4 linked regions of the Homo sapiens genome follow. The protein of the gene in region 3 interacts with the protein of the main gene of each other region in a pairwise test. Each region holds a gene or a part of one and is shown on either strand. Other genes may lie near its edges.

Evidence for each region.
Region 1: the proteins of ZNF620 (region 3) and MYOZ3 interact in binary tests that used the Homo sapiens proteins (3 or more experiments, as listed by UniProt).
Region 2: the proteins of ZNF620 (region 3) and SNAPC3 interact in binary tests that used the Homo sapiens proteins (3 or more experiments, as listed by UniProt).
Region 4: the proteins of ZNF620 (region 3) and SART3 interact in binary tests that used the Homo sapiens proteins (3 or more experiments, as listed by UniProt).

Annotation. Positions count from the first base shown.
Region 1 is NC_000005.10:150,656,679-150,664,283, forward strand, and holds the start of MYOZ3 (myozenin-3), read left to right. Parts: upstream 1-4,572; 5' UTR 4,573-4,749; intron 4,750-6,262; 5' UTR 6,263-6,263; coding exon 6,264-6,324; intron 6,325-7,605. Other genes in the region: SYNPO (synaptopodin), read left to right, coding at 1-409. UniProt on the Homo sapiens protein: Myozenins may serve as intracellular binding proteins involved in linking Z line proteins such as alpha-actinin, gamma-filamin, TCAP/telethonin, LDB3/ZASP and localizing calcineurin signaling to the sarcomere.
Region 2 is NC_000009.12:15,418,007-15,425,894, reverse strand, and holds the start of SNAPC3 (snRNA-activating protein complex subunit 3), read right to left. Parts: upstream 3,020-7,888; 5' UTR 3,016-3,019; coding exon 2,702-3,015; intron 1,987-2,701; coding exon 1,909-1,986; intron 1-1,908.
Region 3 is NC_000003.12:40,516,021-40,519,251, forward strand, and holds the end of ZNF620 (zinc finger protein 620), read left to right. Parts: coding exon 1-843; 3' UTR 844-2,716; downstream 2,717-3,231. UniProt on the Homo sapiens protein: May be involved in transcriptional regulation.
Region 4 is NC_000012.12:108,530,166-108,537,198, reverse strand, and holds part of SART3 (spliceosome associated factor 3, U4/U6 recycling protein), read left to right. Parts: intron 1-413; coding exon 414-491; intron 492-626; coding exon 627-685; intron 686-1,730; coding exon 1,731-1,840; intron 1,841-4,864; coding exon 4,865-4,977; intron 4,978-5,918; coding exon 5,919-5,995; intron 5,996-6,888; coding exon 6,889-7,033. UniProt on the Homo sapiens protein: U6 snRNP-binding protein that functions as a recycling factor of the splicing machinery. Promotes the initial reassembly of U4 and U6 snRNPs following their ejection from the spliceosome during its maturation.

The sequences.
Region 1 (7,605 bases), on a different chromosome or scaffold from region 3:
GAGCGCCTCCCCGCGGTCGGCGGGCGCCGAGAACCCGCGGCCCTTCTCCCCGCCGAGGGCGCCACCGCCCCCGCCCCCGCCCCCGCCCCCGCCCCCGCGCATGCGCTCGCCACAGCCCGCCCGCCCCGGCTCGGCTGCTGTGCCGGGGGCAGCCTTCGCGCCCATCCCGCGGAGCCCGTTGCCCGCCGGTCCTTCGTCCTGCACCAGTCCCCGGAGCCCGCTGCCCGCGCCTCCCAGGCCCTTCCTCTACCGCCGCTCGCCCACGGACTCCGACGTGTCCCTCGACTCCGAGGACTCCGGGGCTAAGTCTCCAGGCATCCTGGGCTACAATATCTGTCCCCGCGGGTGGAATGGCAGCCTTCGGCTCAAGCGTGGCAGCCTCCCCGCCGAGGCCTCCTGCACCACCTAGAGCCCCACCCCCGACCCCACCCCGGGAGGGCAGAGCCAGAAGAAGGCTCATTAGACCTGGGGGACCCAAAGGGTCTGGCCTCTTTGGGCAGCCCCAGAGATGAGGGGTCAGCAGAGGAGAGCTCTGGGGTTGGGGATGGGTTAGGGACGCAAGCTTGAGTTCTAGCCCTTGCTCTCATTCAGCTGTTGTGTGACCCTGGGTAAGACCCTTCCTTGTTTGACCCTCAGCTTTCCCATCTGTTTAATGGTGGCTTTGGCCAAGGCAATCCACAAACGTCAAAATTCCCCTTCCCATCAGTACACACACCGATGCACACACACTCTCTCTTTCTCTCTCTCTCTCTCTCACACACACACACACACACACACACACACACACACACACACACACTAGTTAGTGCCTTGGATGAGGCGGGGCAGTGTGTATATGGACCCCTGGACTTGCTACCTTCAGGGTTCCATACTCGTCCCTCCCCTCCTGGCTCTGCTGTCTGGAGTCTGGCAAGCGGGGTGTGTTCAGAAGGTCCTAGGCCTGTGTCGCATGTCCAGGCACTGGCCTGACCATCCGGCTCCCTGGCACCAAGTCCCAGGCAGGAGCAGCTGTTTTCCATCCCTTCCCAGACAAGCTCTATTTTTATCACAATGACCTTTAGAGAGGTCTCCCAGGCCAGCTCAAGGTGTCCCACTATCCCCTCTGGAGGGAAGAGGCAGGAAAATTCTCCCCGGGTCCCTGTCATGCTACTTTCTCCATCCCAGTTCAGACTGTCCAGGACATCTTATCTGCAGCCATAAGAGAATTATAAGGCAGTGATTTCCCTTAGGCCCAGGACTTGGGCCTCCAGCTCATCTGTTCCTTCTGGGCCCATTCATGGCAGGTTCTGGGCTCAAAGCTGAACTGGGGAGAGAAGAGATACAGAGCTACCATGTGACTTTACCTGATTGCCCTCAGTTTGGGGTTGCTTATTGGGAAAGAGAGAGACAAAGAGTTACTTGTTACGGGAAATATGAAAAGCATGGCCAGGATGCATAGAGGAGATTCTAGCAGGGGACAGGATTGGCTCAGATGACCCCTGAGGGCTCTTCCAGTCTTGAAATGCATTCCATGATATTAGGAAGTCGGGGGTGGGTGGTGGTGGTGGGCTAGTTGGGCTTGAATTTAGGGGCCGATGAGCTTGGGTACGTGAGCAGGGTGTTAAGTTAGGGTCTGCCTGTATTTCTGGTCCCCTTGGAAATGTCCCCTTCTTCAGTGTCAGACCTCAGTCCCAGTGTCCATATCGTGCCCAGAAAAGTAGACATTATCCTGCCCCATCCCTTCCCCAGTGCACTCTGACCTAGCTAGTGCCTGGTGCCCAGTGACCTGGGGGAGCCTGGCTGCAGGCCCTCACTGGTTCCCTAAACCTTGGTGGCTGTGATTCAGGTCCCCAGGGGGGACTCAGGGAGGAATATGGCTGAGTTCTGTAGTTTCCAGAGTTGGCTGGTAGAGCCTTCTAGAGGTTCAGAATATTAGCTTCAGGATCAGCTGGGGGTATGGAATTGGCTGAGGATCAAACGTATGTAGGTGAAAGGATACCAGGATGTTGCTAAAGGTGAGGGACAGTTTGGGTTTGGGACTTACCGGGGTGATGTTAGATCTGGAACCCCCAAGTGAGGCTGGAGGGAGTTAAGGTCAGTATGGAAGATAGGGTTGGGACAGGGTGCTTTGGAATGAAAGAGTGACCTTAGAGGGCTCCTTGGGCCTCAGGAATGCTCCTGCTGCTGTGAAGATGAGAAGGTGCTCTTACTCAGTTAATGATGAGTGACTATATTTACCAAAGCCCCTACCTGCTGCTGGGTCCCTTGTAGCACAGGAGACTGGGGCTAAGGGCCCCTCCCAGGGAAGGGACACCATCAGGCCTCTGGCTGAGGCAGTAGCATAGAGGATCCATTTCTACCTGCATTTCCCAGAGGACTAGCAGGAGGCAGCCTTGAGAAACCGGCAGTTCCCAAGCCAGCGCCTGGCTGTTCTCTCATTGTCACTGCCCTCTCCCCAACCTCTCCTCTAACCCACTAGAGATTGCCTGTGTCCTGCCTCTTGCCTCTTGTAGAATGCAGCTCTGGCCCTCAATAAATGCTTCCTGCATTCTTCTGCCTCCTGTGTCATTTTCAGCTGTGTCTGATGTCCTTCCCTTCTCCCCAAGCATGGAGCAGTCCATGGGACTCTGGGTGGCTGGGAATATTTGAGACATATGGGATGGGAGCTTGGGAAGAAGCAGCCATGGGGAGAGATGGGAACAACGGACAACTTGAGGCCATAGAAGTACCTGGACTGCAGTCCTGGTCCTGTCATGGACGAGCGGGGTGACCCTGGGTGAGCCCACTCCTTCTCTAGGCCTCAGCTTCCCCATCCGTATAATGGGGAGAGTGGGTCTAGGTAATGTCTCAGGGTGGTATTGTCCAGGCCCTGACCACAGAGCACTATCACCAGAGTGGGCAGGGCCAAGCTGGGTCAGGGCTCTGTGCTCTGAGGCTGTTTCCTCATGGCAGGTGGGGGTGCCAGGGCAGGAAAGGCGCCACTGTAAGAGGTCCCGTCTGAGCCAGGCAGCCCCAGTGAGGCAAGGACTCGGGCCATGAGGCATCCTCTCCTGGCAGGAGTGTCCTTTGGCCAGAGAAGGGGATTGTGATCCTGCTCCCAGGTGAGGCTAAGCTTGCCCTGGGAACACACCTCACTCTTCCTCTCTAGAAGCTCAGGCCCACCGAGGGCCAGGAAGCTAAGGTCAGGGTGGTGGACAGCAGAATCTAGGCTTCTGATTTGAGAGGTGTCAGAAATACACCCCAGGATAGTCTGCCAGCACACAGACACCGGTGGTCCCCACCCTGCACCCAGCCCATCCTTGCTAGGCCCACCCTTCCCCAGGAGTGTGTGCCTTGGACCCAATCTTTATCTTCGGCTGGGGCCTCACTGCAGCACAGTGTCCCATTGCCTACTGGTGATCTCATCCCAGTCCCCCGACACCTCAAAGTTCATCCAAAACTGACCTCAGTGTCTGCCCCCACCCCTCCTGCTCCTCCCCTTCCAGTCACCCAAGCATGAAACAGGGGAGTGGGACTCCCTTTCCTCACCTTCCACATCCAGTTCCTCACCAAGACCCAAGGGTTCTTCAAATAACCCTCAACTCCCTCTCCTCTCCATCTCCTTGTCACTGCCCTGATCCAGCCACCCCTGGTGACAGTCAGGTCCTCCTGCCTCCAGTCTGGCCCCCTCCAACCCATTTCCCACATGGCAGCAAAGATATCTTTGGAAAATGCCAATCCGATCACTCCATTTCACCACTTTAATCTTGTCAGCAACCCTTTATAAACACAGTTTCCTTTTGAAAGCCTGCTGGGATCTGGCCGCTGCCCCCACTGTCTGGGCTAATCTCTCAGCACTGCCCCCAGCTCCGGCTCTACTTGCCAACCCCCTACCCATCTTTGTAGGTGACATGTCCACTGCCTGCCATGCCCCTTCTCTGCCCAGTGAACTCCCACTCATCCTTCAAGGCCCAACTCCAGTGTGTCCTCCTCTGGGAAGCCTTCTCACCCCCCACCCCAGGCTGAGCTGGTAACTCCCTCCCCTGGGCTCTCCCAGAGCCTTCCCCAAAGCTTGTTTACCCGTCTGAATCTGACCTGGCTGAGCTCCTTGAAGACAGAGCCCTGCCTTATTTATTTTCAGTCCTTAGAGAGAGGCTCAGGGAATGTGAGAAGGTAGAGGGAGGGAGGGAGGGAGGGAGGAGGGGAGAAAAGAAGGCAGGCAGGAAGGAGGCAGAAGAAGAAAGGCAGGAGAGAAGAAAGGAAGGAAGAAAAGGATAAGTCAAGCAAAGATATTGAGGAGCAATTCATTCATCCATCTATCTATCCATCCATTCCTTCCTTCGACAAATATCTGCTGAGTTCCTATCAAGCACCATTCTTGGCACTAAGGATATAACAGTTAACAAGCGGAAGCTACCAGCAGCTGACCCTCAACATTTCCAGGTGACTTTGGTGTGTGCATATGTGAGTGTGTGTGTACACGTGGGTGCAAGCCCTCTGTCTGCACAGGCCTGTTGCCAGGGCACCTGTCTTCCCTAGGGTCTGGTGCTTTTAGCCTCTGGCTCCAGCTCCTATTGCAGCCCGAAATAAGGCTGTGACCCATGGCAAGGCAGGAATGATTCTCATCAGCTGAAGCCAGAGCTGGCTGCAGGGGACACCCTGCTCGCTGCCTACTGACTGCTGACCGCTGACTGCCTACAGGGACGCCACGCAACTCTCAGCTTCCCGACAGAGGTGTTAATCTTGAGGGTCTAAGATTCCCTCCTGCCTATTGTGGTCCCATCCTCTCAGGTACCAGCATCCTAGGGGAGCTTGGGGAACTCAGGGGAGTGGGCAGAGGAGGTGAGCCAATCCCCAGAGCTCCTTCCCCCGGAGAGGAAGGGCCCTGCAGTGGATCTAGGGAGTTTGGGGCCCCATGCAAGCCTCGATCCTGGTTTGGGAGGAGAGGAACTCTAAGCTCTAGGTTACCCTGCATTAAATGGGGAGGGTGTGGCTAGGATTAAAGGTGGGGAATAGGTAATGGCTCTGCTCAGGACTTTGGGATTTTTAGGCAGTAGAGGGAAGCAGCTTCTCTGTAAAATGAGAGACCCTTCCCAGCATCTGTGAATTTCTGTAAAGGGAGTGTTTATCAAGAAACAGATCTGTGGACTGTGGAATCCTAAACGGTTGTGATCGAGGCATTCTCAATCATCCCATGACCCTCACCCCAAATGCATGTAGACACACTCATGTTTACGTATAGTTTTAGGGGGTTTGTGAACACCCTAAAGCCCATCCATGGATCTCTGTGATTTAGCCTAACCCCCTACTGTTACAGATGGGGGAACTGAGGTGCAGAGCTGGAAAGCTACTTGTTCGCAGTTACAGAGAAAGCCAGGGACACCCACTAGACTCCAGTTGCACAATGCAGTGCCCACTGACTCCCAGGGCCCCTTGTCGGTGTTGGGGATACAGATGAAGGCAGATTGTTTTCTAAAGGAAGGAGTATAGGAAAACCTGGAGGCAAAGGAGAAGGGTACCCAGGTGGGTGGTCAGTCGAGGAGCTCAAGGGCTCTGCCTCTTCTCCAGAGGGCAAGTTAAGGTACCTGGGCAAGTTAAGGGCTCTGGACCTCATTTTATTTGCAAATCTCTTCCAAGATTCTTTGAAAGTGCCATGAGATACAAATAGGGGGATGGAACAGGAGGAAGAGAAGGGACGAGGGAGAAGAGAACACCACGGAAGTTAGCCCAGTAGCGGGGAGATGGGGAGGACGGGGGATGGTTCTCTCTGCTTGGTTGGACCAGCCTGTGCCCTCAAGCGTCAGGGCCAAGTGCCAAGGATGAAAGGGGCTCACCAGCCTTGCAGACCCCAGTGTAACCCCAACCTAGTCCATCCTCCCCCTTCCCCTAACTTAAACCTCCAACTTCTTTCAGCCTTGGACTAGGACTCTCCTGGGTCAACCGATGACAGTAGTGCCTGAGACCTTTGCCTGCCCCACCCGGATGCCCCTGGCACCTACTCTCCCTCTGATCAGGATGCCAGAGCTGGGAAAAGGCCCTAGAAACCACCCCTGAAGAGACAGTGCTTCCCTAGCAACATGAAAATAGATTCGTGCAAACTTGAGCACCTCCCTCTCGTTCCCTGGGCCTCAGTCTCCTCTGCACGGAGACCCTGAAGTCCCTTCCAGCTCAGACATCCCTTGCTTGTGATTTGGGGCTGGCCTAAAGCTGTTCAGGACTGGGGCAGGGTGAACCAGAGACTGGAAGGAGGTCTGGGGAGAAATGGAGGCAGCCTGGTCCATTTATGGGGGTCTCTCCTCCACAGGATGATCCCCAAGGAGCAGAAGGGGCCAGTGATGGCTGCCATGGGGGACCTCACTGAACCAGGTAAGGTGGTTCTAGCCTCATGCCTTCCTCAGACTCCATCATTTCCTTGCTCCCAGGCTGCACTCACTCTGGCCTGCTGGCCCCAGGCCTGGGCAGACAGGTGTGAGCTCCAGGCCAGCTCTGAGGGAGTGCCTGTAGAATTTGCTGCCTAGGCTGGGAAGCTTCCCTGAGGCACTGGGAGGGGTCTTGCCCATCTGTCCACAGACCCAGGAGCTGAGGCTGAGTGTCCCAGGCTGGGCCTTGGCTCTAAAATGACCCTGGCCCTGGCTTCATCTAAGGCCTCACCTCAGCCCCAAATTAAGCTCTGAAGACTCTGGTCCCAACTCCAGCCCTACCTGTGGCTGCAAGCTCTGCACACACTTGCCTTTGCCTATTACTCCTGTGGGTCTCACCGAGGCCTCTGGGTGGCCCAGGATGGCTGGGCCCCATGGCTAAGAGAGGGGAGTGGAGAGAGTGGAGTAGGGTGGGAAGACAGGGGAGTCGAGAGAGTGGAGCAGGGTGGGAAGAGCAGGCTGCCCATTTGAATACAAAACTTTCTACTTAAAGCTGATTCATCAAATGAGTAAATCATTTTTATCATTTCATTAAAAAAGTTTAAATTCATTTTTATCAATTTTAGAAGACCTCTTGAGGAACTCTTGATACAATTTTGGAATCTGTTTATTTGGTCTACTTTAGAGGATTTCAGGTATTTTAAAAATTAATTTAGGGGCTGGACACAGAGGCTGATGCCTTTAATCCCAGCACTTTGGGAGGCTGAGGTGGAAGAATTGCTTGAGCCCAGGAGTTTGAGACCAGCCGGGGCAACATGGTGAGACTCCATCTCTACAAAAAAAAAAAATTAGCCAGGCATGGTGGCACATGCCTGTGGTCCCAGCTACTCAGGAGGCTGAGGCAAGAGGATCGTTTGAGCCTAGGAGTTGGAGGCTATAGTGAGCTACGGTTGTGCCACTGCACTCCAGCCTGGGTGACAGAGGGAGACTCTGTCTCTAAAAAAAAAAAAAAAGAAAAAGAAAAAAATTAATTCAACTAAGTCAGAGTTCTCAAGCTTTATTGTGAATCATAATGATTTGATGTTGGTTAAGCATACAGAGTCCCAGCATCTACTCCTGAGGATTCTGACTCAGGGGACCTAAGTTAGGACTTGTGCATTTGCCTTCAGCGTGCTAAGGAGTCAGTCATATTTCATGACTTCATATGTGGCATCCTTTTAACCTATTTTGTGTGCTCTTGCCTCCTTTTGTTGATGTCCAGTTTCTTCCCCTACCCTGATTTTGTAGC
Region 2 (7,888 bases), on a different chromosome or scaffold from region 3:
AGTGAAATTCCATCTCAAAAACAAAACAAAATGAAAACAGCAAGGTCCACTCCTTAGAGGCCTTTGTGAGCCACTACAGACTCAGGACTTCAGCCTAAGGGACATCAAAAGGTTTTAGGCAAGGGAGTGACAATCAGATGTGCATTTTAGACAAATACAACTAATCAATCAACAATAGTTACAGAGCACCAATTGGAGCAAGGCAGTATAGTAGGCTTGAGAACAATACACAGATGGGAGTTTGGACTCTCATTGAGCCTTCAAGGACTTTAGAAATGTTAAGAGTTTAAGGCAGTATAAATGCATCTGTTTCCTAAGGGAAAGATGGGTTGTGGTAATCTGGAAAGGAATCTTTGGGCTTTTAAAAAAGTGGTATGGGCAAGGTGTGGCGGCTCACGCATGTAATCCTAGCACTTTGGGAGAACGAGTTGGGCAGATCACATGAGGTCAGGAGTTGAAACCAGCCTGGCCAACATGGTGAAACCCGTCTCTACAAAAAATGCAAAAAAGTTAGGCAGCCGAGGGTGCAGGCACCGGTAATCCCAGCTACTCCGGAGGCTGAGGCAGGAGAATCGCTTGAACCCGGAGGCAGAAGTTGCAGTGAGCAGAGATCACGCCACTGCACTCCAGCCTGGGCAACAGAGTGAGACTGCATCTCAAAAAAATAACGTAACATAACATAACATAGAAGTGGTATGTTTCAGATGGGAGAGAGGCCACATGCATCCTGAGCCATCTGAAAGAGAAAGTGGTTGAAAATAAATCTGGAAAGGCAAATTTGGGATATATGTGGAAGGCTTCAAATGTCTAGCTAAGGAGTTTGAAATTTTTCCATATAGGAGATGTAGGGCCATAGACCATTTTTAAGCAAAATGGCTTGCTCAGGCGACAGCATGATGGATAAATCAGTGGGAGAAATGACTGTACTTATCAAAGACACTTAAGAACCTTGCACAGTGCTCCAGGTGTTGCTGCTGTAAAAGTCAGCAGTAGGGACCAGGGGAACAGATTTAGCAGTTATTATGAAAGAAAACCCAAGTAGAGTTGAAATGACTGCCTGAATATTTGAGGGGGATAATAGCGTAGGATCAAGAACGACAGAACATAGCTGAGGTAGTATGAAATAAGTGGACTATAAATTGGAAATTATAAATTTCACTATTACATGCACAATTTCTCTATATTATCATACAACAGTGCCTCTCAAAGAGTGGTAGGCAGACCAGAATTCATCTATGACCTATTTGTTAACCAATCTGTACAGAAAATGACAGTAAGCATTTAGAAACTTCCATTATCATTGAATAATTTTGTCTATTGAATTTAATTAAAAATTTGAACTTATATTGTGTTTGTCTTTTTTAATTCCATTTTTCTAGTAATTCTTTTTATAGTATTTTATCAAAGCATAAATCTGTCAAAGATTAAAAATTTTTAAAAACAAGAACTGTCCTTTACCACAAATAGTTTGAAAAACACTGTCAGAGTATTTAGGTTGCCCCCCAGATCTAAGTAGATTACCTCTATAAACAAACATTCAAAAATATTAAAAAATAAACACAAGTTTGAATATGGACTGAATATTATAGATTATGTATTTACGGTTTTCTTAGGTATAATAATACCACAATAATTATGTAGGAGAATGATACTTTTAGAAGCTATATGCTTATGTATTTACGGGTAAATTATCATGTCTAACTTACTGAATGGGGGATAGCAAAATGAAAAAACACACAGCAGGCATCCCATACACACGGCTAAAGTAAATATGGTCAAATATTAAGAACAGCTGAATTTAAGGGGTGGGTATACAGACAACAATCAATACTGCACTTTCAACTTTTCAAAACATAATGTTGAAAAAATGTTTAAATAAATAGGTCATAAAAACCAAGTCCTCCATACCCCAAAGTCACCAGGTCAGTATTCTCCGGAATGACTTCTGGATCCTCACCGTCCTCAAGGCATTTCAGTTTATCAAGGCTAAAACAAAAAGGAAAAGCAATACTTTAAGGTCGACTCTGCATCTGGTTCACAGCGAGTTAGGGTTGTTTTCCTAAATACATTACTGAATTACGAAGTCAGATAAAATCCAGCAGGCGGCTCAGAGAGGCCAGAACTTAAGACAACGATTTCTGTGATTATATTTTATAATGAAAAGGCCGATGAAGGCAGCCAGTACTGTTAAATGGAGAAAGAGATTAAAGTTATTTTTATATTTTCATCCCCAAATAAGGCACTTTTAAGAAATATTTCAGTAACAGAATACCCGGAAGGTCCCCAAAAGAAACCAGTTAGTCGGGGTTTTAACACTCCTCTGATGAAGTCTCCCGCAGCTTCACCATTACTCAGGTTCCTCCATTGTCAAAGTGTCTGTCAATGGCAGGTACACGTCGCTGTTGCCCTGATTGCTTTTCTTTATTAACAAGCACTCTTAGAATAAGCAAATGGAAAAACTAGTCTTTGATGCAGCTGTCTTGTCCCTTTGCTCCAACTCGTAGAAACTGTGCATTCGGGTCCCAGGACTTCTCCTGGTGTCCCAGGAAGGCTCCAGCGGGTTGAAAGCTTTAAAGGGTAATACTCCTAGCCCAGGTCTAAACCACAGGCCCTTCTCAGGGATGAGTCCCAGAGGAGCGCACGAGCAAGGCTGCACCCTGTTTGACCCCAAGCTGCAAGAGCCCCTTTGCTCCGCACTCACCCGCACACCGCCCTCAGCTCAGCCGCCGCCTCCAGGCTGCAGTCCAGATCCCTGGCCACCGCGGCATCCTCCCGGTCGGAGTCAGCTGCCTGGCTCCCAGGCAGAGCGGATGCCGGCGGCTCCCTCAGCGACAAGTCCCCGGCCCCGCGCAGACGGCCCCGCCACAGCTCCCCAAAGGCGCCCACATGGAAAGCGCGCGTATTTAGCTCGGGAAGCTCATACTCTGGAAAGTTGCAGCCGCCACTGCCGGAGACTGGGTCCTGCCTGCCACCCACCCCGCTACACGTAGGGCCACCTCGGCTTCCTTCAGCCATGTTCGCCCCACTCCTTCCCCTGCAAAAGCCTGCAGATCAAGGCCTCGCAGAGCGTGATGGAAGTTGTAGTTGCTTGGGGCGCCCGGCCGGCGAGCGGCGAGGCGGCGCGGGCAGGGCATCAGAAACTACATTTCCCGGCAGGCCATGGGCAGGCCCGCCCCAGGGCGCGGCACCGCGAGGCTCTACGTGCAGGGCGCAGCATTGTTCTCCGACCCGGGCGGTGCGGGAACCGTTGCGGCTGTCGGTTAACCGCAGCGGGTGGGGCTGGGTTTCTGGTCCCCGAGTTACGTAGCAACTGTCTCTGCCCGGTAGGGCGGCCTCGCCAGGCGCTTAGGCCCCGTTCCTTGCGGCTTTCGGACTAAGGGGTGCAGGGCTTTTTCTTGACTGGGGTTCAAGGACTGCTCTGCTGCCTGATTGCTTTAGAGCCTAAGAAACAAGGAGGGCGAGGGCCGAGACCAGGGACACGACCAGCCCTCCAGATCTGGTTCTTTCACAAGCTCCGCAGAGGCCCCATGTTGGTGTGCGTGTGCAGTAGTGTTTCAGAGCGTCTGTGTATCACACGCTACATGATTAACCCTAATGTATGTTTTTAATGTTTTTAAAAATTACAACAACCTTTCCGGATAGGGCGTATCACCCCGTGTTGCTGTTGAGGAAGGATTTACCTGCGGGGAAAATAGAAGCAGGATCGGAACTCAGTCTGGCTTCAGATGGAGCTCTCTCCATTTCTCAGAGGCCCTGAAGGATACAGCAGGACATACTATTTATTTATTAGACTGTAATCACATGCCATATAATTCACCCATTTGAAGTGTTCAGTGATTTTTGGTATATTCACAGGCTTGGGCAACCATCACCACTATTTGAGAGCATTTTTACCACTCGAAAGAAGAAACTTGTACTTTTTAGCTATCACCCCTGATCCTCCCAACTCCTCCAGCCCTAGCCAACCAAGAACCTACTTTGTCTCTCTAGATTTAACTAATCTGGACATTTAATATAAACGGAATTATATGGTCTTTTGGTGGCTGGCTTAATGTTTACAAGGTTTGTTACAGGTAGTTAGGCATGAGCAGGGCAGGAGAGGGCTCTTCCCTCACCCACTAGGAATGTGGGGTGATGCTTAGGCATTTATCACATTGCCTCTAAAAGTGATAAATTGGCAGCCGGTGCCAGGGAGAGGCCATTTCCTGATGGCCCACACCTGTTGCACTAAAGTGCTCGTTGAATGCAGGTGACAGGGAGAAGCAACTTCCTGGGCATATGCATTAAGAGACAAAATCGGGGAGTATGACCTTTCAGGGGGACTCTATCGGAAAAGGGAAGAAAGCCTCAGATGGGCACGCATACAACTTCATACATATTGCGCTGTGCTCACTTCCCAAGGGTAAGGAGGGCACTGCGCATGGAGGCAGCCCACCCTAAGGGAAGAATCATGGGAAAGGAGCCAGCCTGTAAAGTCCTAGGATCGAGGTCAATATCACAGTTGACCTCAGTGACAGCTTGGGACTCTTCCGAGCGTGCTTTCCTTTCTTTCCTAAAGGCCTTTTAAATAAGCTTCCACTCCTGCTCTGAAACTTGCCTCAGTCTCTTTTTGTGCCTTATTGCCCCTCGGTCAAATTCTTTCTTCTGAGGAGGCAAGAACTGAAGTTGCTGCAGACCCATACAGATTTGCCCTGGTAACTTGGATACCTGCCACCTGTAACACGTTCATCCATTTTGTAGTATGTGTCAGTACTTCATTCCTTTTTTGGCTGAATAATATTGCATTGTATGTATATGCCACATTTTATTTATCAAAAAGTTTTTACCTTTTGGCGTTGCTATGAACATTCATGTACACATTTTTGTGCAAATACGTTTTCATTTCTCTTGGGCATGTGCCCAGTAGTATACAGTCAGCCCTCCCTATCTGTGGGTTCTGCATCCTCCAATTCAACCAACCACATATCAAAAATTACAGTATTCCCAGGTTGCAGAACCTGAGGATAAGAGGAATTTTCCTATGGGCGGATTCCACAGGGCTGACTGCAAGAAGAGCATCTGTCAATTTTGGAGTCCACAGGGGTCTTCGAAACAGTCCACCCTGCAGATACCAAGGGATTTCTGTATTTATGGAACTCTATTTTCAACTATTTGAGGAACTGCCAGATTTTTTTAAAGTGGCTGTCCCATTTTACTCCCCTCCCCAGCAGGATTCTCCACATCCTTGCCAACACTTATCTGAACTTTTTATTATAACCGTGTCAGTGAGTGTGAAATGGTGTTTCATGACTTTTTATTTGCATCTCCCTAATTATATTGATGGAACACGTTTTCATGTGCTTATTGACCATTTGCATATTTCTTTGGGGAAATGTATATTCAAGTTCTTTACCAATTTTTAAATAAAGTTATTGTGTTTCCATAGGAGCTCTGGTTTTTTTTTTCTTTCTTTTTTTTTTTTTTTTTTTTTGTTTTGAGACAGAGTTTCCCTCTTATTGCCCAGGCTGGAGTGCAATGGTGCGATCTTGGCTCACCGCAACCTCTACCTCCTGGGTTGGAGCGATTCTCCTGTCTCACCCTCCTGAGTAGCTGGGATTACAGGTGCATTCCACCACACCTGACTAATTTTTTTGTATTTTTAGTAGAGATGGGATTTCATCATATTGGTCAGGCTGGTCTAGAACTCCTGACCTCAGGTGATCCGCCCACCTCTGCCTCCCAAAGTGCTGGGATTACAGGCGTGAGCCACTGCGCCCGGCCTTCTGGTTGTTTTGTTGTTGTTTGTTTGTTTGAGATAGTGTCTTGCTTTGTCACCCAGACTGGAGTGCACTGGCACAATCAAGGCTCACCGCAGCGTGTCAGGCCTCTGAGCCCAAGCTTAGCCATTATATCCCCTGTGACCTGCACATATACATCTAGATGGCCTGAAGCAACTGAAGAACCACAAAAGATGACATTCCACCATTGTGATCTGTTCCTGCCCCACCCTAACTGATCAATTGACCGTATGACAATACACCCTCCCCGCCCTTGCGATAACGTACTTTGTAATATTCTCCCTGCCCTTGAGAATGTACGTTGTGAGATCCACCCCCTGCCCACAAAAAAATTGCTCCTAACTCCACCGCTTATCCCAAACGTATAAGAACTAATGATAGGCTGGGTGCCGTGGCTCACGCCTATAATCCCAGCACTTTGGGAGGCCGAGGCAGGAGGATCACAAGATCAGGAGTTCGAGACCAGCCTGGCCAATATGGTGAAACCCCTTCTCTACTAAAAATACAAAAATTAGCTGGGCGTGGTGGCAGGTGCCTGTAGTTCCAGCTACTTGGGAGGCTGAGGCAGGAGAATCGCTTGAACCTGGGAGGCAGAGGTTGCAGTGAGCTGAGATTGCGCCATTGCACTGTAGCCTGGGCGACAAAGTGAGACTCCGTCTCAAAAAAAAAAAAAAGAAAAAACTAATGATAATTCCATACCCTTTGCTGACTCTCTTTTCAGACTCAGCCCGCCTGCACCCAGCTTTATTGCTCACACAAAGCCTGTTTGGTAGTCTCTTCACACTGACGCGTGTGACACAGCGTAGACCTCCCAGGCTCAGGTGATCCTCCCATCTTAATCTCCTGAGTAGCTGGGACTACAGGTACGCTGTCATCACATCCAGTTAATTTTTTTATTTTTTTAGAGAAGAGGTTTCACCATGTTGCCCAGGCTGGTCTTGAACTCCTGGGCTCAAGTTATCCTCCTGCCTTGGCCTCCCAAAGTGCTGGGATTACAGGTATGAGCCACCATGCCCAGCTGGAGCCCTGGTTTTTATCAGTACATTGTTGTAGGAAATATCTATCGTTTTTGTCAGCCTAGTATTGTTTATTAGAGCTGACCTTCCCTACTACTTTTGATCCTCCTGGGGCTGCCAGTCATAGAACCATTCCCAATCTGGCCACAGTGGTTGGTCCAAGGATGATCAAGTGTCTCAAATAGAGCCAATCGGAATCCTCCTGTGGGGTTTTATCTATAAACCAAGAAGCCCTTTATCCATTCTAAGGACCTAATAATGTGTCCTAGACACAGACCGTTCCTGCCAGTGGAAGAGTTAGAAGGAACAGAGGCAAGAGTTTGAACAAGCAAAGGCAGAAAATGGAGAAGATAGAAGTCAAGTGACTTGGAGCTACTGGGGCTGAGGCCATCTGCTCTCCTGTATTTGCCATTATGTAAAGGAGGCAAAATTTTACCTCTACTCTCTTAGGATTTTTCAGCTGGGCCTGAGAATTAAATTGACATAAGATGGAGCAACAGGAGAAAAACATGCAAATTAATTTCATACAAGTGTTATGTGGCATAGGATCCTTCATAAGGAAATGAAGACCCAAAGAAACAGTTACAATTGAACACTTATAAACTGAATTGGATAAAGAGTTAGTGAATTATGAAAATGTGACAAGGCAAAGCATACAAGGATAGGGTAGTTAATTGAGTGGAGAAGTGACTAGAAAGCTAAGAGTTAGTTTAACAAGGTTGGTTTGTACAGATTTCCCTTAGCCTCAACTTCCTGTCCTTGATGATAAGAATGATGTTTTCCTTCTGGGTATAGGGAGGACACCTTTCACATGGGAATTTCATCTCCTGCTTTTAAGAAACAGAAGAAAAGTCAGAGTGAACTCCTTGCACCTGCTGTTTCCCAAGTGATACGGCTCAGATGAGTGGAGGAACACGAGGGTTCTTGGTCCTCGTGCCGGCAACATGGACACACATGGAGTGGTTTTAAGGAGCGGAGAGTTTAATAGGCAAGGAAGGGAGGAGACAGAAGGAAGAAGGTCCCCAGTAGAGACAGGGGGAGGGGGGCTCCAAAGCCAAAAGAGGAGGTCCCCACCTGCCACGGATACCAGCCAGG
Region 3 (3,231 bases):
AAGACAAAGTCAAAGAGGAGACATTTCACAGATACCTCAGCCAGGCACCATGAGGCCTATGAGGTCAAGAATGGAGAGAAGTTTGAGAAATTAGGAAAAAATATTAGCGTCAGCACACAACTCACTACAAATCAGACAAATCCTAGTGGTCAGATATCTTATGAATGTGGACAATGTGGCAGATATTTCATTCAAATGGCAGACTTCCACCGACATGAGAAATGTCACACTGGTGAAAAGTCTTTTGAATGCAAAGAATGTGGAAAATACTTCAGATATAACTCATTACTTATTCGGCATCAGATAATTCACACTGGAAAGAAACCATTTAAATGTAAAGAATGTGGAAAAGGTTTAAGTTCAGACACAGCCTTGATTCAGCATCAGAGAATCCACACTGGAGAAAAGCCCTATGAATGTAAGGAGTGCGGCAAGGCCTTCAGTAGCAGCTCTGTCTTCCTCCAGCACCAGAGGTTCCACACTGGGGAGAAGCTCTATGAATGTAACGAATGTTGGAAAACTTTCAGTTGCAGCTCAAGTTTCACTGTCCATCAGCGAATGCACACTGGGGAGAAACCTTATGAATGTAAAGAGTGTGGAAAACGATTAAGCTCCAACACAGCCTTGACTCAGCATCAGCGAATTCACACTGGGGAGAAGCCCTTTGAATGTAAGGAGTGTGGGAAGGCATTCAATCAGAAAATAACCCTGATTCAGCACCAGCGAGTTCACACTGGCGAGAAACCTTATGAGTGTAAAGTGTGTGGTAAAACCTTCAGCTGGTGTGGAAGATTCATTCTGCATCAGAAACTACACACTCAGAAGACACCTGTCCAAGCATAGGGCTATCCATAGTTAGGCCCACTGTGCCTCTCCTTTTTTCTCTTTATTTTCATGCTTTTTATCAGTGTCCTCGCTGTCCTTCCTGGTTAGACACTTGGCTTTCATCATGAACTCTTCTTTAAGTTTTTTGAACCTGTTTCCCCAACATGAAGTCTCTTTATGGTTAGAGAAGACCAAAAAACAAACAAACAAACTTAGAAACATAAAAGGAAATGTAAGTTTCCAGATTTAAAGGACATGCTGGGTGCCCAGCAGGATGGATTCAAGGGAAACCTACATTAAGGAAAATTGCTGTGAATTATGAAAACACCAAGTTTGAATAAGAGGATCATGGAGAAAAAATGAGACCCTAAAAAGTTTCTAGAGAGAGAAAACAAAAGATCAGAAATGAAAGCGGGGCCAGGCGCGGTGGCTCGTGCCTGTAATCCCAGCACTTTGGGAGGCTGAGGCGGGTGGATCATGAGGTCAGGAGTTCGAGACCAGCCCGCCCAATATGGTGAAACCCCGTCTCTCCTGAAAAAAAAAAACACAAAAATTAGCCAGGCATGGTGGCGCATGCCTGTAATCCCAGCTACTAGAGAGGCTGAGGCAGGAGAATCACTTGAATCCCTGAGGCAGAGGTTGCAGTGAGCTGAGATCGCACCACTGCACTCCAGCCTGGGCGACAGAGTGAGACTTTGTCTCAAAAACAGTAAAAAATGAAAATGGCATTAGATTTTTCAAGAGCAACCTTCAAAGTCAGATGACAATGTGTATGCCTTCAGACTTCTCATGGAAAATGTTTTCCCCTGCAATTCTATACTCCAAAGTATAAGTATAGAATAAAGGCATTTCAGACCCTTTAAATCTGAAATCTTTATCTCCCATGCATCCTTTCTCATATGTGCAACACTACACAAGGAGTAAACCAGTAAATAAAAAGACAGATATATGGATTCCCTATTGCAGTCCGTACGTCAGAAGTCTCCTAAATTCAAAAACGGGCCCTGTCCATGTGGAGCCAAATGCATCTTGGAAGACATTCCTAGTAGGGTGCAAACTTCCAGAGACCTATCTCAGGTTCAGTGTCCACCCACCCTACTTATTCTTCAGTTTGTCTTCACTAGACAGTTGTACTCTGTGCCTTTGCAAAAGTCAGGATGTATATACTCTTTGAGTCAGGTGCAAGGCACCATTTGTCTTAAATTTATTCTCATTGCTGTTTCAAGTGACCTCAAAGCAGGCAGCATTTTCTTGCAATTCCATCTAGTTATTTTTTATGATCATGGAAGAACCTACCATTATTGCTGTTACCTGTGGAAATGAGGGAAGATGTAAATGTGTTAGGTTTTAGCATCCCCTCTGGCAGCCAGCTTGATTTTGCAGGAAGCAGAGAGTAGTGATTAATAATACAGAGCCAGGCAGACTTTGGTTTGAGTCCAGGTGTTTGTCCTTGGTTAAGTTACAAAAACTGCACTAGTTTCCTTATCTGTAAAATGAGGATGACAGTTAATCTACCTCATAGGTTTGTGTTGGGGATTAAATGCATTATTTGTAGAAGTGTTTCAAACAGTGACTACATATAATAAAAGTATTACCTATTATTGGCCGGGCACAGTGGCTCATGCCTGTAATCCCAGCACTTTGGGAGGCTGAGGTGGGCAGATCACAAGGTCAGGAGATCAAGACCATCCTGCTAACACACTGAAACCCTGTCTCTACTAAAAGTACAAAAAATTAGCTGGGCGTGGGGTGACATGTGCCTGTAGTCCCAGCTACTTGGGAGGCTGAGGCAGGAGCCCAGGGAGGCAGAGGTTGCAGTGAGCCAAGATCATGCCACTGCACTCCAGTCTGGGTGACAGATTGAGACTCCGTCTCAAAAAAAAAAAAAAAAAAATTTTTACCTATTATTATAATCCTATTGGTAAGTTTTGACTTATCAATATACTAGTGAAACAATTATCACAGTTCAAGATAATAATCAGCCACCACCCCAAAACTTTGCTTGTACCCCTCCATAATCCCTTCCTCTTGGCCCTTCACAGGCAACCACTGGTTTGCTTTCTGTCACTTGGATTAATTTTCCTTTATTTTTTGGTCTGGTGTCTTTCACTCAGCATAATTACTTTGAGATTCACCCATGTTGTTGCATATATATCAATAGTTCATTCCTTTTTATTGCTGAGTAGTATTCCACTGTATGGATATGCCATAATTTGTTTATTCATTGACCTGTTGATGGCCATTTGGGTTGTTTTCAGTTTTTGGCTATTACAAATAAAGCTGCTATGGACATTTGTGTCCACATCTTTGTAAGAATATATGCTTTCATTTATCTTGATACAGGAGTGGAATGGCTAGGTCATTAGGTAGATTGGTATAGATTAAACGTTTTAAATTTTTATTATG
Region 4 (7,033 bases), on a different chromosome or scaffold from region 3:
CTGCTGTGTTTTAGAAAAATCTTTGTACCTCTGTGGGATCCTTTGCCCCTTCATGTCCCCCCGAAAACAACCAGAAAACCCCTAACTTGTACTTGCACACTCATGTCAGCTGTCACCTCATACAGGTAGCCTTTAGCCATTCTCTTGTTTGCCTGTGTCACCCCAGCTGGGGGAGACTCCCCCCCACAGCACCCTGTGTTTGCCTTTTTCACCACGCTGTCCATGCTCTATTCTGTTCAAATTTCTTTCTCCCCAACTATGTGATGAGGGCAGGAATTGGCAATTTTATTTCTGTGTCCCTTGCATGATGCCAGGTACATAGTGGGTCTCCAGGCAGTTTCAGCATAGGATAAAAAATAAAACAAAGCCAGGCTATGTGGTTTCCTAAAGCCTTTTTTTGCACTTTCCGTTAGACTCCAGTAAAGAGCTGGAGGAGTTGAGGGCCGCCTTTACTCGTGCCTTGGAGTATCTGAAGCAGGAGGTGGAAGAGCGTAAGTATGCCCCAGCCTGTGGTTTTGCCCAGTTGTATTTCCTTGTCTGTACTATTTCCTGGTTGATGTACCTTTTCAGCCAGCGACTATCTGTCTCCAAGTTCCTTTCTAATTTTACTAATTCTGTTTTTGAAGGTTTCAATGAGAGTGGTGATCCAAGCTGCGTGATTATGCAGAACTGGGCTAGGATTGAGGTAAATGTTTTTGACACATCTAGCACTTTCATCCATCATTGTTTAATAGCATCCTATTAAACTTTAATTAAAATTGAGTCAGAATCCCAGATAATGGCCTAAGCTCTATAAGGATTTATGTTATTACCTAGGTAATGGTCTAGGCTCCACAAGGATTCATGTTATTTACCTAGCTTGACATATATTTGTAAATATGTTGGTGAAAATATTAGCTCCCAGCTAGAAGTTGTGCAGTAAATGTTTAGATGCTAGGTATTCACTCGTTTACTTCTGTCTCTGCCTCTTTGCTTCATTTGTGAGAGCACAGTGAGCGTGTACTGTTTGTCAGCACTGTACTAGGTGCTGTGGGAATAAGACAGATAAAATTCCTTTGCTAGTAAGGCTTCTATCTAATGTAGAAGACAGATGATTTGACAAGTAATTAGAGGATATGATGACTTGAATGTCATTACTGGGTCAGGGACACCAAGGTCAGTAAGACACGGAACCTCCCTTGATCAGCAGGTAGGATTGTAACAATTCTAATCATGTTTTCTCCTCGGAGGGAGCGTCAGATAGAAGAAACTAACATTTGTCAGGTAGTTTTTATATGGGATGCTTATCTTTTAACCATTTTAAAGATGAGAAAACTGAGAATTACAGGTTAAGTAATTTGCCCAAGTCACAGTTTGTAAGTATTAGTAGCAGAGTGTGCATTTAATACTAGATCAGTCTTTTTTTTTTTTTTAACATTGTCTCTCAAACACTTGTAGTTAAGCTTGATAAAAATAAAAAACGTGACTATCTAGTACTGTCGAGTAAGTACCGTGCGCTCCCTCTCTCGGTTCTCAGGAAACATAGGTAGATTAGCTTGTGGCTGCAGAAAGGCTCAAGTGTTTGGGCTGGGTCGTTTACCACTGGAGGGAGGCCTGGGGAATGCCCAGGGACATCTGTAACACTAATAGTTGTGGGGTGCTTTTTATGTGTGTCTGTTGGAAGTGTGTTGTATGATGGGTGTCGACGTCATAAGGTTCAGGTCTCCTAACAGCCTGCTGATGCACTTTAGGCTCGACTGTGCAATAACATGCAGAAAGCTCGGGAACTCTGGGATAGCATCATGACCAGAGGAAATGCCAAGTACGCCAACATGTGGCTAGAGTATTACAACCTGGAAAGGTAACTGATCTCGGGGTGGGGAGGGAGGCAGTGCTTGTCAGCTGTGCACCTGTCTTCACTCCTGGCTGACTCCTACCAGCTTGGACTAGCTCCTTAGAACTGGGCTGTTTTCTTTCATTCTGTCTCTTTCAGTAGTGGGTACATTTTTAATGGGCAGGGCTAGAGAACCAGACATGATATTTTGTGCCTGGAACTCTTATAGCCATGCATTTCTTTTAATTTGTTTTTGTCTTGATTTTTGGGCATGATATTTTATTTGACCTTTTGGAGCTATTTGTTTTTTATATTTGCTTTTATAGAAAAGTAGAAAATACTAAAAAGCTAAGAGAAAAAAAACTCAAATTACTGACCCAGTCATAACCATGACCCATTCTTTGAGACTTTTCTATGTTTAAATTTTTTTGTAATGAAAATGCAATTATAGCATGCATGTGTTACAAGCCTTTAAAACTATTTGAACGAAATAAGATAGGCCTAACAATATTTATAACATGGGGAAAACATAAAGAATGTGACCAACTTTTCAGTCTGTCTTGAACGTTGTTCATTGCATAACATTGCTACATTGCTGGGTTTTCTTTTTTGAAGATTTTTTCCCTATTTAAAAAACACTGTGTGCCCAAATTAGAATATTTACAAAAATATGTGATAGAAAGCGACAGTTTCTTTTCTTTTTTCGGGGGAGGTGGGGAGTCTCACTCTGTTGCCCAGGCTGAAGTGCAGTGGTGCAGTCTCAGCTGCAACCTTGCCTCCTGGGTTCGAGCAATTCTTCTGCCTCAGCCTCTTGAGTAGCTGGGATTACAGGCGTGCACCACCACACCTGGCTAATTTTTGGATTTTTTTTTTTTTTTAGAAGAGGCACAGTTTCACCATGTAGGTCATGCTGACCTCAAGTGATCCTCCTACCTCGGCCTCCCAAAGTGTAGGAATTACAGGCATGAGCCACCATATCCGGCTAAACGTGACAGTTTCTTACAATCCCACCCCAGAGATAACCACTGTTAAAGCTTGTTGAATATCCCCCTAGATCTGCAGTTCACAATTTTTTTGGTCTCAGGATCCATTTTCCACTCTTAAAATTGGAGGATCCCAAAAAACTTTTATGTATGTGAGTTATATCTATTGATATTTATAATTTATAAATTGAGAAATCTAAAAAACATTTTAATTTATTTAAATATAACAAATTATCTAACATTAATATCTTTTTTGAGCAGTGACTGTTTTCCAGACCCCAAAATAATATAGTGAGAAAAGTGGCAGTGTTTTCTATTTTTGCAAATATATTTATTTGCACATTATTCTGACCTAGGAGAAGACAGCTAAATTCTCATGTCTGTTACTGATTCTGTCTGTTGTGATCTGTTGTTTTCATTGAAGAGGTTAGGAAAGAAAGGTATTTTAGAAGCATTTTCAGATAATTGTGGGTATTCTTCTTTCATACATATTATAGCAAAACTTCAGTGTTGCATGTGGAATCTGAAACCATATTGACAGAGTCTGTTACAGTAATACCCATTTGTCTATTTTATCTTTTACTTGATGCCACAATTCTACGACATTATTTGGAAAAATCCCAATTCACTAAATCATGCAGCTCTTCCAATGTTGACATATTTCATCCTATAGTATTAAAAAATCGTATTTGTTCATATCTGTATTGATCTTAGTTGAAAAGTATTTTAAGTAGGAAGCTGTCAGACTTGTGGTGGCAGATACAAGTTTTCCAAAATTCTAATTTTCACTTGAAAGCTTGAATTCTATCACATGCAACAAATAATGTCAGTGGTTTTCCCCAGAGTGGCAGCCTCACTTTGTTAATTTTCAAAAATGTCTGCCAAATACCCAGGTCTGAGTAACTGACCGTGGTTTGTCACTCAAGTTTCCTTTCAAGTAAAAATGGTGTCCTTGAAAAAAATGACTTGATTAGCTTGCAACTCAAACAGTAATATGCTTTTTTTTTTTTTTTTGGCAATAACCATTGTACTTCAGTATGCAGAAGGGCTTTAAGTGTACTTAGTATTTCATCACACAGTGCATTAAAAAGATTTCTACTGCCTTGATTTGTGCTAAGGGCCACCATTACTTGTGCACTGTCTTGAAGATGTCAACACAGTGAAAAAGTCCAGTAATGTCTTGGTATTATTATAAAAGGAGTTTTGACTTTGCAGGGCCCCTGAGAGGCTCTGGGAGATCCTCAGGGGTACGTGGATCTTACTTTGAGAACCAGTGCTCTGAATTTATTCTGAGCATCATAATATGTATATATAATTATGTATATTTAAAATGTTTTAAAAACAAATATGAATACACTGTTGCATAACAGTTATGATTAGCAGAATTGTGTAGCTGTTGTGATTAGCAGTGTACAAAAAGGATCTGTTTGCGACCAGCCTTGCCAACCTGGTGAAAACCTGTCTCTATTAGAAATACAAAAATTAGCTGGGTGTAGTGGTGGGCACCTGTAATCCCAGCTACTCAGGAGGCTGAAGCAGGAGAATTGCCTGAACCTGGGAGACAGAGGTTGGAGTGAGCCGAGATCGTGCTATTGCACTCCCACCTGGGTGACAAGAGCGAGACTCCCTTTCAAAAAAAAAAAAAAGATCTGACTCTGGGTATGAAATTTGACACTACCCTGGATTCATAACTCTCCTGTCAGTAGGACGCCATAGTAAAATTTCCCTGGGGACTGTATCAGGTTACAGAGAGCTGTTGGACTCCCCCGCCATGTGCCGCACATGTGAATGCTGTAAAGGCAGAATGCTGGTTGCAGATCACAATATCAGGTACACTTTCCAGTAGCCCCTACATGGCTGAGGGAGAGAGTGCTTCAGGGAAATACTTCGTAGGTGACTGTAGAGACTCTGGAAGGAGAAAGCATCATGGATAGATCTGAAAGCTAAGGTCTTCTCAGAAGCTAGAGTTACTGAAGAGTGAGTTTCTACCTGGGAGAAGACGGCCTCTCCCTTCGAGTGCCTTCCACTTTGTGTCCTGGTGGCAGCAACTTTTTGTTTTCTGCCTTAGAGCTCATGGTGACACCCAGCACTGCCGGAAGGCTCTGCACCGGGCCGTCCAGTGCACCAGTGACTACCCAGAGCACGTCTGCGAAGTGTTACTCACCATGGAGAGGACAGAAGGTGGGACCCCCAGCTCTCTTCTGGCTTGGAGCCTAACCCATTTGCTGTTTGGTCTCAAGTAGGAGCATCTGGTTACAGTCTGGGGACAGACTGTGTTTATGCTGCCACCTTAGGTGGTGCCCTATGATTAGACTGTCACAAGTGTCCTGAAAATGAGTCCTCCTGCAGCTCTTCTCAAATTCTGCAGCTACAAGGAGGACTCTGTGATGTCACTGTAGCACAGGGTTCTAATTCTCTGTGGGGGGGACTGTGCGTTATACAATGTTTAGGGGCATCCCTGGCTTCTAGCCCTGAAATGCCAGTAGCAGCTTCACCACCACAACCAAACATGACAACCAGAAATGTCTCTTAACATTGCCAAATGTCTCTTGATGGGCAGGATCCCTCCTTTGAGAGTCACTGTGCTCTAGTACAACATCTATCCAACAAAGGAGCTTGGAGAGGCAAATGGCTCAATGTGTCCTTTGCATCCCTTGTTAAATTTCAGAGCCTTCAGTGTTAGCTAGAACCAATAGAAAAATAATGTGAACTTATCTGTGGGTATTGGTCTGGATTTTGGGTATGGACCCCTCAGAACTGGCTTGCAAAGACCACCAAAAAATAAGAAATAAATGCCTCAACATTTGAGTAGCTCTTAAAATTCTTCAGTCTTAATATAAATGTACTTTTGCATTAGAACGTTCGTTTTCATATTCTTTGCCATTTAGAGCCCTTAATAGATCATATTCTGGTTTTCAAGTCTCTCCTGAAAGGAGAGGGACATTTTAAACCCACTTAGAAGGACTATTTGAATTCTGAACTTCAAGCCTACAGGGATTACATTTTCTTATTGTTTGATGGGAGAGATCTCTTCTGGAGGTACAGAGAAATTAAGAAAAATTTATGTGATTGTATCCTTCAAAATCCTAAAGAGTGAAAGTTTTGCTTCTCTTTCTTTCAAGGTTCTTTAGAAGATTGGGATATAGCTGTTCAGAAAACTGAAACCCGATTAGCTCGTGTCAATGAGCAGAGAATGAAGGTAATGACAATGTTTGAAGTCTTTGGCACCTCTGGTAGCTATTTTGGCTCAGTTTGGTATGGATGTTTCTTGTCAAGATGTTTTACATTTTCCTAAGTGTCTTTTACTCAGTATTAATTATAAAATATTTAGATCAATGCTTAAACCTGTCTTGTGTCATTTTTACATTGTTCTAAAACATCAGCCCCAATATTAAGTACTTGTTTCATTTAGTGAGGGAATTTTGGCTCTAAAATTTACGAGAATTGATGAAAAAGAATAAAGAAGAGCCTCACTTAGCCTAGTGAGTGGAACATGAACACCCCAACTTATTTAGGGCTTCAGTTTTATGGATTTTTTTTTTTTTGAGACGGAGTCTCGCTCTGTTGCCCAGGCTGGAGTGCAGTGGCATGATCTCGGCTCACTGCAAGCTCTGCCTCCCGGGTTCACGCCATTCTTCTGCCTCAGCTTCTCGAGTAGCTGGGACTACAGGTGCCCGCTACCACACCTAGCTAATTTTTTGTATTTTTTTAGTAGAGATGGGGTTTCACCATGTTAGCTAGGATGGTCTCGATCTCCTGACCTCGTGATCCACCCATCTCGGCCTCCCAAAGTGCTGGGATTACAGGCGTGAGCCACCGCGCCCGGCCAGTTTTATGGATTTTTTTGCCTTCCTTTTGGTGAGTAATGATTAGGGTGAGGAAATTGCTAATGTAACAGAGACATCAGATCCAGAATTCCAACGAACCTGAATGAGCCCTGGTGTGGAACAGCCGTGAGCCTGTCCACGTTTTTCTCCTGATCTCTGCTTTTCATTAGTAATGAATTTCCACTCCTTCTCCCCTTTCATGACAAATCAGTACAGTGAATGTAATTGCCACATCCAGCGATGCATCATCTTCCCACTTTTCTAGGCTGCAGAGAAGGAAGCAGCCCTTGTGCAGCAAGAAGAAGAAAAGGCTGAACAACGGAAAAGAGCTCGGGCTGAGAAGAAAGCGTTAAAAAAGAAGAAAAAGATCAGAGGCCCAGAGAAGCGCGGAGCAGATGAGGATGATGAGA